Regions from separate parts of the Homo sapiens genome. Here all the other regions are linked to region 3. The links come from fine-mapping of genetic effects on gene expression. A gene starts in region 3. Each other region holds a variant in brackets. All regions are shown on one strand. Distances are between the middles of the regions. Region 1 overlaps BLTP1 (bridge-like lipid transfer protein family member 1). Region 2 overlaps IL21-AS1 (IL21 antisense RNA 1). Region 3 holds the start of BLTP1 (bridge-like lipid transfer protein family member 1).

What was found. PIP is the estimated chance that this variant, and not a neighbour inherited with it, causes the effect. A credible set is the group of variants that fine-mapping cannot tell apart.
Region 1: its variant is the best candidate, but not a certain one, in a credible set for the expression of BLTP1 in nasal epithelium (TOPMed, PIP 0.61).
Region 2: its variant is the best candidate, but not a certain one, in a credible set for the expression of BLTP1 in monocytes (TOPMed, PIP 0.79).

Annotation. Positions count from the first base shown.
Region 1 is chr4:122,218,114-122,222,363 of GRCh38, reverse strand. BLTP1 (bridge-like lipid transfer protein family member 1) reads right to left here. Exons shown (of 88, transcript NM_001384125.1): 21 at 2,797-3,024; 22 at 1,894-2,031. Among named protein-coding and RNA genes, the nearest start is that of BLTP1, 68 kb to the right of the region's middle. The variant A/G (reference allele first, on the strand shown) is at 2,449.
Region 2 is chr4:122,635,708-122,639,957 of GRCh38, reverse strand. All of the region lies in intron 7 of IL21-AS1 (IL21 antisense RNA 1), which reads right to left. Among named protein-coding and RNA genes, the nearest start is that of IL21, 17 kb to the right of the region's middle. The variant G/AG (reference allele first, on the strand shown) is at 2,379.
Region 3 is chr4:122,149,848-122,154,097 of GRCh38, reverse strand. BLTP1 (bridge-like lipid transfer protein family member 1) reads right to left here and starts at 1,767. Exons shown (of 88, transcript NM_001384125.1): 1 at 1,514-1,767; 2 at 1-73. RefSeq lists silencers at 1,513-1,592, 1,663-1,852 and an enhancer at 1,675-2,476.

The sequences.
Region 1 (4,250 bases), 68 kb before region 3:
TCTTGAAGCCTTGAGTTAAGAGACTGATGCTACCCAGGATAAACTACAAGTGGGTAACCCAGATTTGAGCCTTGGGAGTAGACACAGTGTGAACCCTCTCACTGTGAAAGAACATTAGATAGTATAACGACAGATGAAGAAAAAAATTCTTAGGAATAGTCGTGTCAACACTATAGAATGTAAACAAGGTAAGTAGACAAGCAAATTCCAAGAGGATATATATGGTACCTTTGTCTTCGGGGTAAGTTGTCAACAATCGGGGAAATGAATTATCACTAGTACTTCTACTTTCACCTTGGTATCTCTACTCCATGAACTCCTTCTCTAATCCCCAAATAAGTCATACTTTATAATTCAGTCTCTCCACAAGTTTGCATACCTCTATAATAAGAATTAATGTGAACATTCATAATCAGCTCAATAAAATGTTTTCTATGTCTGGAAAAGCCTTTTAAAAGTGCAGTGATTAAAAGTTGAAGGGCTACCAGGTACTCATAAAAAACCAGGGATAGTCATCTAAGTTTCTCAGAACTCATCCATAGAAGACTTTCCCTTTTCCCTTTATTAATTTCCTTAATAGACTGAAAAAGGGAGATGGGCTTCCTCTCCACATACCTGCCTCCCAGAATAAAAAACAACCGATTCTAATGACCTGCTAATTATAGAGAGGACAAGAGGTTTTTTTTTTTAAGGTTAATATGGCAAGTTAAAATAATGTGTTATGTGAGATCTTTGTGATGACAGAATAGTTCTGTATCTTCATTTTGGTGGTTACATGAATCTACACATGATAAGAAGACCTAGAACTACGCACACACATTGTATCAACGTCAGTTTCCTTGTTTTGATACTATAATTATGTAAAATAACTTAACCATGGAAAAAAACTGGGTAAAGAGTACACACAGGATCGCTCTGATCTTTGCAACTTCCTGTGAAACTATAATTATTTCAAAATAAAAGTTTAAAACCAGAAACACACATTCTGTGGCAAAACAAAAACAATGCCTAGCACATATTAAGTTTTAGCTAATATGATCTCATATATGTCAAATATATGTATGAAAAATTAAATTAAAATTCCATGAAGAAAAATATAGTCAGTGATGGCAAAAGAATGAAAAGGAGATATGCTATTTTAAATAAAATGATCAATTACTACATATAATCATAATAAATGATCATTCATTGATGATTTCTGGTTGTCAGATTCACCTTCCCATTTATAATTTTACTTTGTCTTGTATTAAGTTCCATTTATATTTCTAAATCACACAACTTGATTAAAAGTAAGACAGGGGCATATAAAGTGGTGGTAGTTGCCACAGAAAGCCATTTGGCATGAAAAAAATAATAAAATTATAATCTACCCAGAAATGTAATACATTTTCAAATTCTCACTTGATGAATATCATTGGTTCTCTTTTAAAAGAGCCCAGAGGTATCTTGAAGGAATTAACAAAGTATCTTATGTTAGATGAATAAGAATAAATCATTGATCATGTAGATACACACGTTTTAAAATATTATGGTACTGGTTAATATTAACATTTATGCTGTGATACTCAACAGAACCTACCAACATTTTATATAGTTAATTTTTCCCTTCCATAAATATTTGAGAAAGTACTTATTTCCATTTCTATTATAATAGCAAAAGGTATAAAATATAATTGGGATCACAGAAATAGGGAGCAGCAAAAGAAAATTGAGATTCTTGAAACAACTCTCATACACATAAACATACATACAAAACTTCTTAATACAGTTAACTTAAAAGTCTCCAACTTAAAGAGCTACAAAGTCCATGCACAGAAGCTAATACATTGTTTTAACCCAATAAATATTAATAATAAATCTCTATGTCTCCACCATATTTCATTTTCACCTTACCTGATAGTTATCACTGACAAACACATTCAGGGGTGACAGGATAAGTTGCAGCATGGTCTCCCTAAATCCTTTTTTCATTTCAAAACATAGTCTTTCCAAGAAAGCTGTAGGGCATTCAGGACCATCAGTAGTTCCATGCTACAGTCAAATGAAATAGCACAGTTGAAATGCAGAAAAGGCAAAAAGTAAGGAAGTATAGGAAAATAAAAATTACATCTGTCATGATTAAGAGAATTTGTTTTTCAAAAACAGAGAAACTATGATTACTGAGAAAAATAACTATTCTGTACCTCAGTAGGATCGTTAGCTGCACTAAGCAACAGAGGGCCACCGGCCCCACCACCCCACTGCAACCCGGACACACACCTCATCTGGCCCTGCACCAAAGTCCCTGGGTTCTTGGGGCAATTTAATATCATTCCATGTCAGCCAGAACAGGTCCACAGGTTGTCCTTAGAGCGACCCAGGATACCGTGCTAGATCCAAACTACATAATTCAACCCCCAGGGTCAAGCCAGAAACTCCATTTTATAACAGGTCCACCATAAGGCCCCA[A/G]ACTGGTCTGGGGTCTAGAGATAAAAGCTAAGAAAATGTAAAGTCCTTGAACACCCATCAGGTTAATTATAAACCCAACAACTCAATGTATGACACGATGTCCTGACATTACACATATAGCAAAGAAGGAGCTAAAGTTAAATTAGAAGAAAAATAGAAAATAAAAATTACCAATGATCAAGTAATCATATTATGAAGAAAATACATGAGTTTTATAACAGTAAAAGAATAAATTTAGAAGTTTCTAAATCTGATTTTCTTTTTCTAAGTGTGTGCTGAATGCTTCACATCTATACACAGGTGGATGTTATAATATATTCCAGACTACTTTCATGTGTAAACACTTACAACAGGAAGACGCCCATGAACTTTGTACAAATTAACAAGTACAGTAATATCCCAAGGACGCAAGGCAAGTGGATGAATTGACTTGGCTGAACCTTCATTTTCCTTTTTGTCATTTTCCATTCCAACAGCAGTCCACCCAGAGCTGGATGATGTTGACAGTGACAAAACAGGACTTGAGATAACCTCTTCAAAATCCATATACATGTCATCTTCCCCAAAGTAGTTTTCCTATAAATATTAAGAAAACACAAATTGCTGTCAAAAGAGGTATGTAAATATATTTTCACCTATGAGCCTAAATTTGTAAATTATGCATTTCCTTAACCTATTATATTTAATAAAAAGGCATCAGGCCTATTGTCTTAAAATACAAAAGAAAACATATGTTAAGACTTACACATAGCTGCTTGGCAAATATTCAGTAGCAAAAAATGCAAAAAGTTACAGAGCCTATTTTATAGAAAAACTTCATGGCATTGCCCCAATTACAGCAAAACCTTGTAATTTAGGTCCTCAGAGACCTCTGAAGGTTTGCATGGTTAAACAGTTTTCAATCACTGCTCCTCAGAGTTCTCAGGCAATACCGAGGACATCCTTTGGGGGAAGCAATTCACTGAAAATCAGTCTGGCTAAATTCAATTAGGTAACTAGTACAATTCACATATTCCTGTTGGAATATTTATTGGGCATGTTTTAACAGCTTTAATAAAAATATCCAATCTTGGTTATTGATGAGATAAAGGCATGTGTTACCAACAATTAACAAAAATTCCTTTCACATAGTTCATCCTGGTTTTTTATGCAGAAGTGTTTCAACTACTGTTTTCTTTTGCATGAAAATATAAATTTAGCTTCAATTTAATTTATTTTTTCCCATTGATTCTATATTTAAATTTTGGCCATTTGATCTCTCAGTAGTAAATAAAAGTTGTTAAATATTCCTGTTAACATTGTCAGCATATCTGTTAAATATTAGAACCAAGACAGTATTTTGGTAAATTCTGCACTTTGGTTATTGACAAAATTATCTTCTGACTAGAGTTATGGACATCAGTACATAATATCTTTTCATAGGAAATAATGTTGAAGGGCTTAAAGTCATACAGTTAATTGGTAGGGGGATTAATATTTAAATCCCAAACCTACCGGCTCACAAAACCAGTGCTTTTTCCTCTATTCCCTATTGCTGTCCACCTCCTAATTACAGATGCCACTTGAAACCTGCTTGAAATCTTAATAACTGTCTTTATAATACAATTCTGAAGCATGGACAAATTTATGCACAAATATAACAGAAAACACTGGGTTATATTTTAAATTCCAACATTGAATTTTTAAAAAATAACATAAATGTCTAAGTGAGTTCGATCAACATTAAAAACTTGAAGAGATAAAACAAAAGGCTGGTTCTTTGACAAGACAAAAAAAAATGATGGACCATCCATGAGATTAAC
Region 2 (4,250 bases), 490 kb before region 3:
TGCACACAACCAACCCACTTCAGCTACTTTTGTGAGAAAGTACTCGGATTTCAGTAGTGAAGGAAAGAAATAAGGAAAAAAGAAACAAGGAAAAAAAGACCTGAGAGTTGGAGTAGACCAAACCTGAATATAGTGGGCACTGGAGCACTGATCAAAAGAGAAACATGTGTCAGGCTGCATTGTTAGAAAAGTGACTTAGAAAAGCTGAAGTTTTTTGTGTATTTGCTTGTTTTGCAATTAAGAGAGTCATAACAGATATTGGCTATCACCTGGGGTCATTGTAGTTGGTGCAGTGAGACAGGTGTGGGCAAATCACATCATTTGGTGCTTTCAGTTTATAAGCAATCTCTTGTTTCAGTGATTATTAAGGATAAACTTAGAAGGAGACAGGAATCTTAATTAGACATGTCCATTCTGAAAGTCTGTGGAACGAGGAAAGGACTCTTCTACTATCTTTGTCTTTGGTGAGGAAGGAGGAGTTTATTAACTGAATACACATATATGAAACCCTCAAGTTTTTTTTCCACACTTGTGCTGAAAGCCTCCTCTTGTTCCTCCACACTCCACCTCTTGAGTCATTTCCTAGTCACCTGTCATTATATTGTGGGGAGAGGAGGAAGTGGCGGCGGGGGGAGGGGGCACACAAAATGTGGGGCCTGGGAACTATCCCAACTTACCACACCTGGGACAGCACTGTCACCACATTTAAGAGCAGATGTAGCAAAGTGTGATGTCTAGAGAAAAACTAGGGAAAAAATGATAGCATTATTGGAAACTAGGTCCTATAAAAGAATGTTGAGCCCATTTGGTGAAATATTTAGAGAACAGACCACATGGTGTCTTCAAATAAACAAGTGGAGGTTTATTTAAGGGTGTGAGCAATTGTGTTGCTGTGGCAGAGGGTGGAGATGTAATTAGAGGGTATATTTACTAATCTTGAGAATATTTTTGCAGCTCCTACAGCTAAAGTCCAATGAGAATTCCAATAGACAACCACCTTGGAAGACTTGTGGGTCATAATAACCGTGGGTTTGCAAACCAGCTGGAGCCAGCTCTTTGATTGGTGCCCTCTGCCCCTGCCCCTTCTTAGTTGGATGTTGCAGCCAATTGTGTGTAAACGGGAGCTCATCTTCCACACTGTCTTAAGTGGCATTCTCTACCAGGTGATTTAACTGCATAATTCATTGCTTGATTCATTCTTATACCAGTAGAGAGAAATTCACATTTTTATCAGCCTTAGAAGAACTTTGCTCGTGGATTTCCAAAAGTACAAATTAAAAGATCATGAAGAGAATTTGATCAATATTTCACTTTATCTTTAACATTCCTTAAATGCCTGCTTGTTTGCCTGCTTTCTGTTCTGCGTCTAAAGCATTCACAGAGCCCATAGGCTCTTTTGGGGCAACCTGTGGCTCTCCCAGACTGAAACTTCCATAAAGCACTGTATGGGGCACAGAGAGGTTGTTTAGCTGCTCTGGCAGTTGGCAATTAACATCTTCGTGAGATCACCTCAACTGAGGTGTGCAGAAAAGTCAAAAATAAAACAGAACTCTTCAGACATTATTTTATCATTTAATTAGAAACTAACACCTGTTCCTGGGTTTTGTACTGCTTTTCAGTTACATCTTCTATGACTAAAACAAGACATTCGAGTATATATCTATATTTACAAACCATAATAGTGTCTAAATTTTGAAACAATGAAACTACTAGATGAAATTATAAGCTAGAAATCTTTAATATTTACTGTGTAGTATTACATGGTGTATATGTACCACATTTTCTTTATCCAATCCACTGAATATGGGCACCTAGGTTGATTCCATGTCTTTGCTATTTTGAATAGTGCTGCAATGAACATACATGTACATGTGTCTTATGGTAGAACAATCCATATTCCTTTGGGTATATAACAAGCATGAGATTGCTGGGTCAAATGGTAGTTCTGTTTTTAGTTATCTGAGAAATATCCAAACTGTTTCCCACAGTGGCTGAACTAATTTACATTCCCTTCTATCCATAGCCTCGCCAACATCTATTATTTTTGGACTTTTTATTATTAGCCATTTGACTGGTGTGAGATAGTATCTCACTGTGGTTTTTATTTGCATTTCTCTTATGATTACAAGTGGGAGCTAAACATTGGGTACATATGGACATAAACATGGGAAACACTGGAGACTGCTAGAGAGGGAAGAGAGCAAAGGCTGAAAACCTACCTATTGGGTATTATGCTCACTACCTAGGTAGTGATCATTCTTACCCCAAAACACAGTGTCATGCAATATGCATACGTAAAAAACCTGCACATGTATCCCCTGAATTTAAACTAAAAGTTGAAATTATTTTTTAAAAATGACATAATCATCATCATGTGT[G/AG]CTGGACTGCAATAATGGCCCCAATATTCATGCCTCCCTCTATCCTTACCCTTTGGTGCTAGCCCTCCGTGCTGACTCTGGGTTTGGCCATGTGGTTTGCTTTGGCTAATGAGACACCAGCAAAGGCTTGGAAAGGGATTTGCTTGTTTCCACTTTCTTTCTTGGACCCCCATCAGAGTATGACCAGGCTAGCCTGCTGGAGGGATGTGAGAGCCATGTTGAGAAGAACTGAGTTGTCTCAGCCAAGGCCAATCTGCCTTTAATCCCAGATAAATGAGCAAGCCCAGCCAAGATCAGTTAAGCCTACCCCAGATGAGCTGAGCTATGAAGCCAATCCACAGGCTCATAAGAAATAATAAATGTTGGTTGTTTTTAACCACTAAAGTTTTGGTGTTGTTGGTTACGCAACTGTAGCTAGCTGATACACTGTCTTCTTAGGTGCATTAGGATTTTCTTTGCTTGAGGGAATATTTTTTAAGAATCTCTAGAGGCCATTTCGGGGAGCATGCTGTAGTCTTAGTATAAATAACAATCATTTGTTTCAGGCAAAACTGTCTGCCACTGGACTTTCTCCTAGAAAGGCAGCAAACATCTGCAGGGTATTACAGTAGTGTTAGGAGAAAGAGGAAGTAGCCTTGTCAAGGCTTACAAAATGAATGCTCTTATTTACTATAGACAAATGATTGGAGGGTGTTGTAATTGGGTGAGTGGCAAATGCAGACAGACTGTGGGGTGGTGACATGAGTGATGCTAGAACTCTTAGGTAGAAGATGGGGCTTGGCCGCCCCTGGTTTTCTGGAGATACAGAATCACACTGACTACATAATAATGATGGTGATGATAGCTAACGATTATTAAGCACTCACTTCCAGTCATACTACATGCTTTACATGCATTCTCTCATTTCTCATAATAACTCTATGAACTGGGTATTAGGTAATATCATTAGCTCCATTTTACAAATAATGAAACTGAGGCTCAGACAGCTTCTTCAAGGTCAAATTGTGCTTAAGTCATAGAGCCAGGATCAAATTCAGGCAGTCTGACTCTTTGGAGTCATGCTCTCGACCTTTCTACTATTGTAACCAAATACTTATTTTTTCAGAAAAAGAGAAAAAGGAATTTAGTATAATTCCCTCATTTGGCAGATGGACAACTGAGAGCCAGAAGTGTTTGGTGTAGAGATTCTTTGACTAACAAGGTTTAAAGGAATTCTCCCCTCTAGGTCCAAACCACCAAAAGCTGAACAAAATTCACACTGATTTTTGTGAGGCTTCATCTAAGACCAGTTTGTACATACAGGTATGCCTTTTGTGTACTGCAAAATGGTGCCCAGGTGAGGGTTGGGTAGGGTCTGAAATCTACAGTGCACCCCCCTCACCAAGCCCTGTGTCCTAGCATACATCTTCCTCCTCGCAGAGGAAGAGGTACTTTTGAAGATAATTTTTTTGCACAGAAAAGGAGTTGTTTTGTTTTTTGCATTTCCACAAAAGCACCAGATGTGCTCGGAAGTCCCTGCTAAAACACTTGCAAATTGTGCCCAATAAAACACAGCTAAAGAGTGTCCCAATTTTTCACACACACACAAAATTATGAGAAGTGTGACTAGTTGGTGCTCAGTAAATACTTGTTGAATGAGTGAATTTTAAATGAGCAAAGATGCCCTCGTTATACACAGACACATAGGGACCAAAGCACATGGGACACACAAATTCACAGCCAGAACCCAAATCCATGGCACCAACTCATCCACGAGAAATAACTGATTTCCTGTGCACATTTATCTAATTTGTGCACACTTAAAAAAAAAATACGTACTGTTTCCATAAGACATCACCTCATTTCTATGATTTCTATATTAACATACATATT
Region 3 (4,250 bases):
GAGTTTGCAACGTTCTGTTTTTCCTTCTACTTTTCTTCAGATAGCCTTTCTGCAGTGTTTCATCTTAACAAACCTGAAAAGTATGGCATTTTAACTAATTATACAAGGTATTCTGGCTTTACGAGCAGCATAACCATTTCTGATTATATGATTTCGTTACTTAATCATGCACAAACAGGACGAAACTCTTTTAGTCCAATATTACGTTTCCTTGTTTAAAGTTTCCAAACAACAAATACTCCTAAGTATAAAATAAAACTACAACTTCCAAACTGAAGCCTTCCAAAGACTCCAAAACCACTGTACTTAAGAGCATGAGTTTGGTAATCAAAGGTCCTAGAGATCAAATCCTATGTTTAAAACATAACTCAAAATGCACATTGAGAAAGTTTCTCTCAAACTGTTGGGTCCTTGCCGGCAAGAACAGTGCCATAATGTCCTTCCTGGCATACTTTTTATCAAATGAAAATCTTGCAAAATCACAGGGTGCTTGGGAGTTGGTATGGCATACTGACTAAGGGACTGCAAACGAGTCAGATTACCTGGTTTCAGTCACAGCTCTGACTTTGAACATGTTACTTTGTAGGTCTATTCTGTTCTTTCATCTAGAAAATGGGAATAGTAGACTTTACATTATAGGATTGTTTTGATGATTAAATGTGATAATATATGCACATAATTATATGTACCACTCAATAGTTACAAAGTATTCTGGTTATTCATCTATTTTTATACTTTGTATATTTAACTTGGAATAAAACAACTTCATTGCTATGCACAGGGTGAAAGCAGAAACCACTAAACCGGTTGAAACTTACAGGCGCTTAGACAGTTATAAAGCCCATGATTTCCTTAAAAAGGAAATTCACATGAACTTTTACCTTTAACAAACGTCAACACTAAGGCCAACAGGAAGGTAAAAAAAAAAAAAAAAAAAACGACAACAACTAATACTCTCCGGAAGAAAAATCAACTTCTCTTCACCTTCCTTTGACCAATAGGAAATTCTGCTGAAACGTAGTCTTCTAGAGTGCAGTGCAGCAAGCACCAATTCAGAATACAAAACACATCAATCCCAGAGAAGAAAGCGGGGGTTGTTCCAAGGCTTCCCCGCCCTCGGTCAACCGACCCTATATTAAGCAGCATGGGGTCTACTACAACCCAGTGCAGCTGGCAAGGCTGCAGTCCGAGCCTGCGGGTGCACGGTCCTTCCTGCCGAGTCCACACACCAGCAAGTGGAGCGCCTTACCATCACCCGCAGGAACTGCTCCTGTATCAAAGTCCCCAGCCATCCGACTGCCATGGCCCTTCCAGACTTTGCCACTGACCTCCAACCCTCGGTTTATAGGTGCCAGGGCTGTAGGTAAGGATGGCAAAGGAATATGAAGGAGTCGCCGCCGCAGGCAGCCACTACTAAGCCAAAGCTCTCAGACTCCGACCAGGTTGAGTTCCAGAGACACTGGAAAAAGGGGCTGACGACCTCAACCCCGTCTGGCCCGGCCCATCCCCTCACCTGGGCGAGTGCCGAGGCAGCCCGAAATCCCTCTGGCCTCTCTCCGGGGAACGCCGAGGGCCTTGGGCGGCGGCAGGGGCGGCGACGGCAGCAGCACCGAGCCGGATGCAGCCTGCGAAGCTCTGCCGGTGCCCACACCCTTTAGCCCCGCCGCCCGGGGCCGCCGCCCAGGTCCAGACCCTGGCCGCAGCCACCGACACCCAAGGGGGCGGAGGAGGAGGGGAGGGGTCCCAACCGAGGCCGGGCGGCACTGCGCCTGCGTCAGGCAGCAACGTCACACGCCAGCGTCGCCGGCGCCTCGAGGTGCGCCACTCAAGCCCTGCCCAGGAATCCGGCGGCGTCCCGCCCTGTTTCCTCCTCTCTGGGCTGCAGAAGGAGCCAGAACCCTGAATTTGAAAATCACTTTGCTACCCTAACAACCCAAAGGAAAAGTTAGTGCCTTCCTGATAGCAGGAGACAGATAAGCCCACTTAGGAGACGGAGGCTAACGAAAAAGGAGCATCGGATGGGTGTATGACGTGAAATGAGTCCTTAAGAAATAGAGATGCTGTTATGACATGATCAATAAGAGAGCTCGATTGTGTGAAGTGCTGCCACGCTGAATCTCTCAACTAAGTCTATTATTATGCTGATGATATTAATGAAAAGTAATTTGCTGCTCCTCTTTTTAAAGAGAAAGGCTCTTAATATTATTTAGCGGGTGAACCAAGGCAAACGACTTCTTGGAATTAGAGGAATGTCGCAGATATTTATTTGTCTGCGCTATATACTAGCAATAGTAAACAGTGTTTAGCAGGGCTTATTGACTAATCCTTCCAAAATCCTGTGAGGCTATTCTCATCCCCGTTTATCTCCATTTCACAAATTGAAAAACTAAGACACTGAGAGGTTAAATAACTTGCTAGAGAACCAGGGTTTGGACCCAAGAAATGTGGCTCCAAAGTATTACTGTATACTGCCTCTGAAGTTCCAAATGTCTAAATCTCTAGTTCTGACTTCTTTCCGGAGCTGAGGTACTTACTACAACCTTAATATTTCCACATGGCTGTTCCACTCTCACCTCAAAAGGAACAGATATGAAACCAAATTTAAGATAATGCCAGAAAACACACGAGGTACAACAATTAACTGTTATTGCATATAAGGAAATAGAGGCCCAGACAGAAGTGGTTTATGGAAGGACTGGATGAAAACCAAAAGGAGAAAAGCATGCACTGTCTTAGTTACTTCCTTCTGCTACCTGGACACTGGTACTGGCCTTATGTCAATTAACTCTTTAGAGTTTATTTCTGCCCCTCTACAAAGAAATTAATTTCAGTTGTCTTTTTCAACATCTGGAAGATTTCTAGTCAATCTTTGTTTTGTAATAAGGGAACCACCACAAGGATTCAAATTTGCTACAGCCAAACTTCGGATTTTGCCCAAGAAGGACATTGTGCAAGTACAAGTTCTCTGGACTAGAAATTACCTAGAGATGGTTCAAGTTCCCCAAATCAAAAACTAAACTGAAACTAAGTTGCACTGTAGCAGAGGGGAGAGGAGAGAAGGAAGTTCACTATGGCCTTTCTGTAACCGTGTGAGGGGACTGTGGGAATCTGGAAGTTTCTGCCTCTACTTCCTTTCCATCCCTGTGATCAAGAGTCACCCTGTAACTACAGCTATGCATTAGGCGACATTGTATAAATGAATTATTTATTTTAGAAGCCTCTATTCTAAAGGCCTTTAGTCTTGTGAAAATAATTATGCTCTTTGACATTTCATATGGCTCACTAAATTTGCATGGCAAGGCTTACTGCCTTCTCCAGTCTCCCACCTATTTTTCATTTTTCTCTAGCATGCCGTTAAAGTAAGGATGCCAAAGAAACTGTCTCCATTGAATCCAAGAAGAATTTCTCTAATGATGAAAGCCTTCAAGTGATTTTTTATATCTTACTTTTTATTTGAAATAATTATAAATTCACAGGAAGTTGCAAAGATAGTTCAGAGTGGTCTCATGTACTCTTCACCCAGTTTCCCCCATAGTTACATCTTGTATAATTATAGTACAGTAAGAAAACCAGGAATCTGACATTAGTACAATGTCTGTATGTAGCTCTATGTCATTTTATCGTGTGTAATTCCATGTGACTATCACTACAAACAATACAGACCTCTTTTATCACCACAAAGATCTCCCTTTTACTACCCCTTTATAGATGCACCCACCCCTCCTCCCCATATAACAACCCTAACTCTTGGCAACCAGTAATCTGTCTTCCATCTTTGTAATTTTATCATTTTGAGGATGTTATATAAATGAAAGTGTACAGTGTGTAACCTTTAGGAACAGGCTTTTTTCACTCTACATAATTCACTTGAACTGTATCCAAATTGTCATCTATATCAATAGTGTGATCTTTTGATTGCTGAGCAGTATTCCAATATATGGATGTTCCACAGTCTAATCATTCACCCATTGAGGAACATTTTGTTGTTTTCAGTTTGAGGCTATTACAAATAAAGCTACTATAAACAATAGTGTACAGGTTTGTTTGTGTGGTCTAGTGATTTTTTAAAAAGGAAAACAACACAGGAAATTTTGGCCACTAAAAAGCATTGTTTTTTAAACTTCTATTTTAAGTTCAAGGGTGCATGTGCAGGTTTGTCACATAGGTAAACTTGTGGTGTCATGGGGGTTTGTTGTACAGAACATTTCATCACCCAGGTATTAAGCCTAGTACTCAGTTAGTTTTCTTGA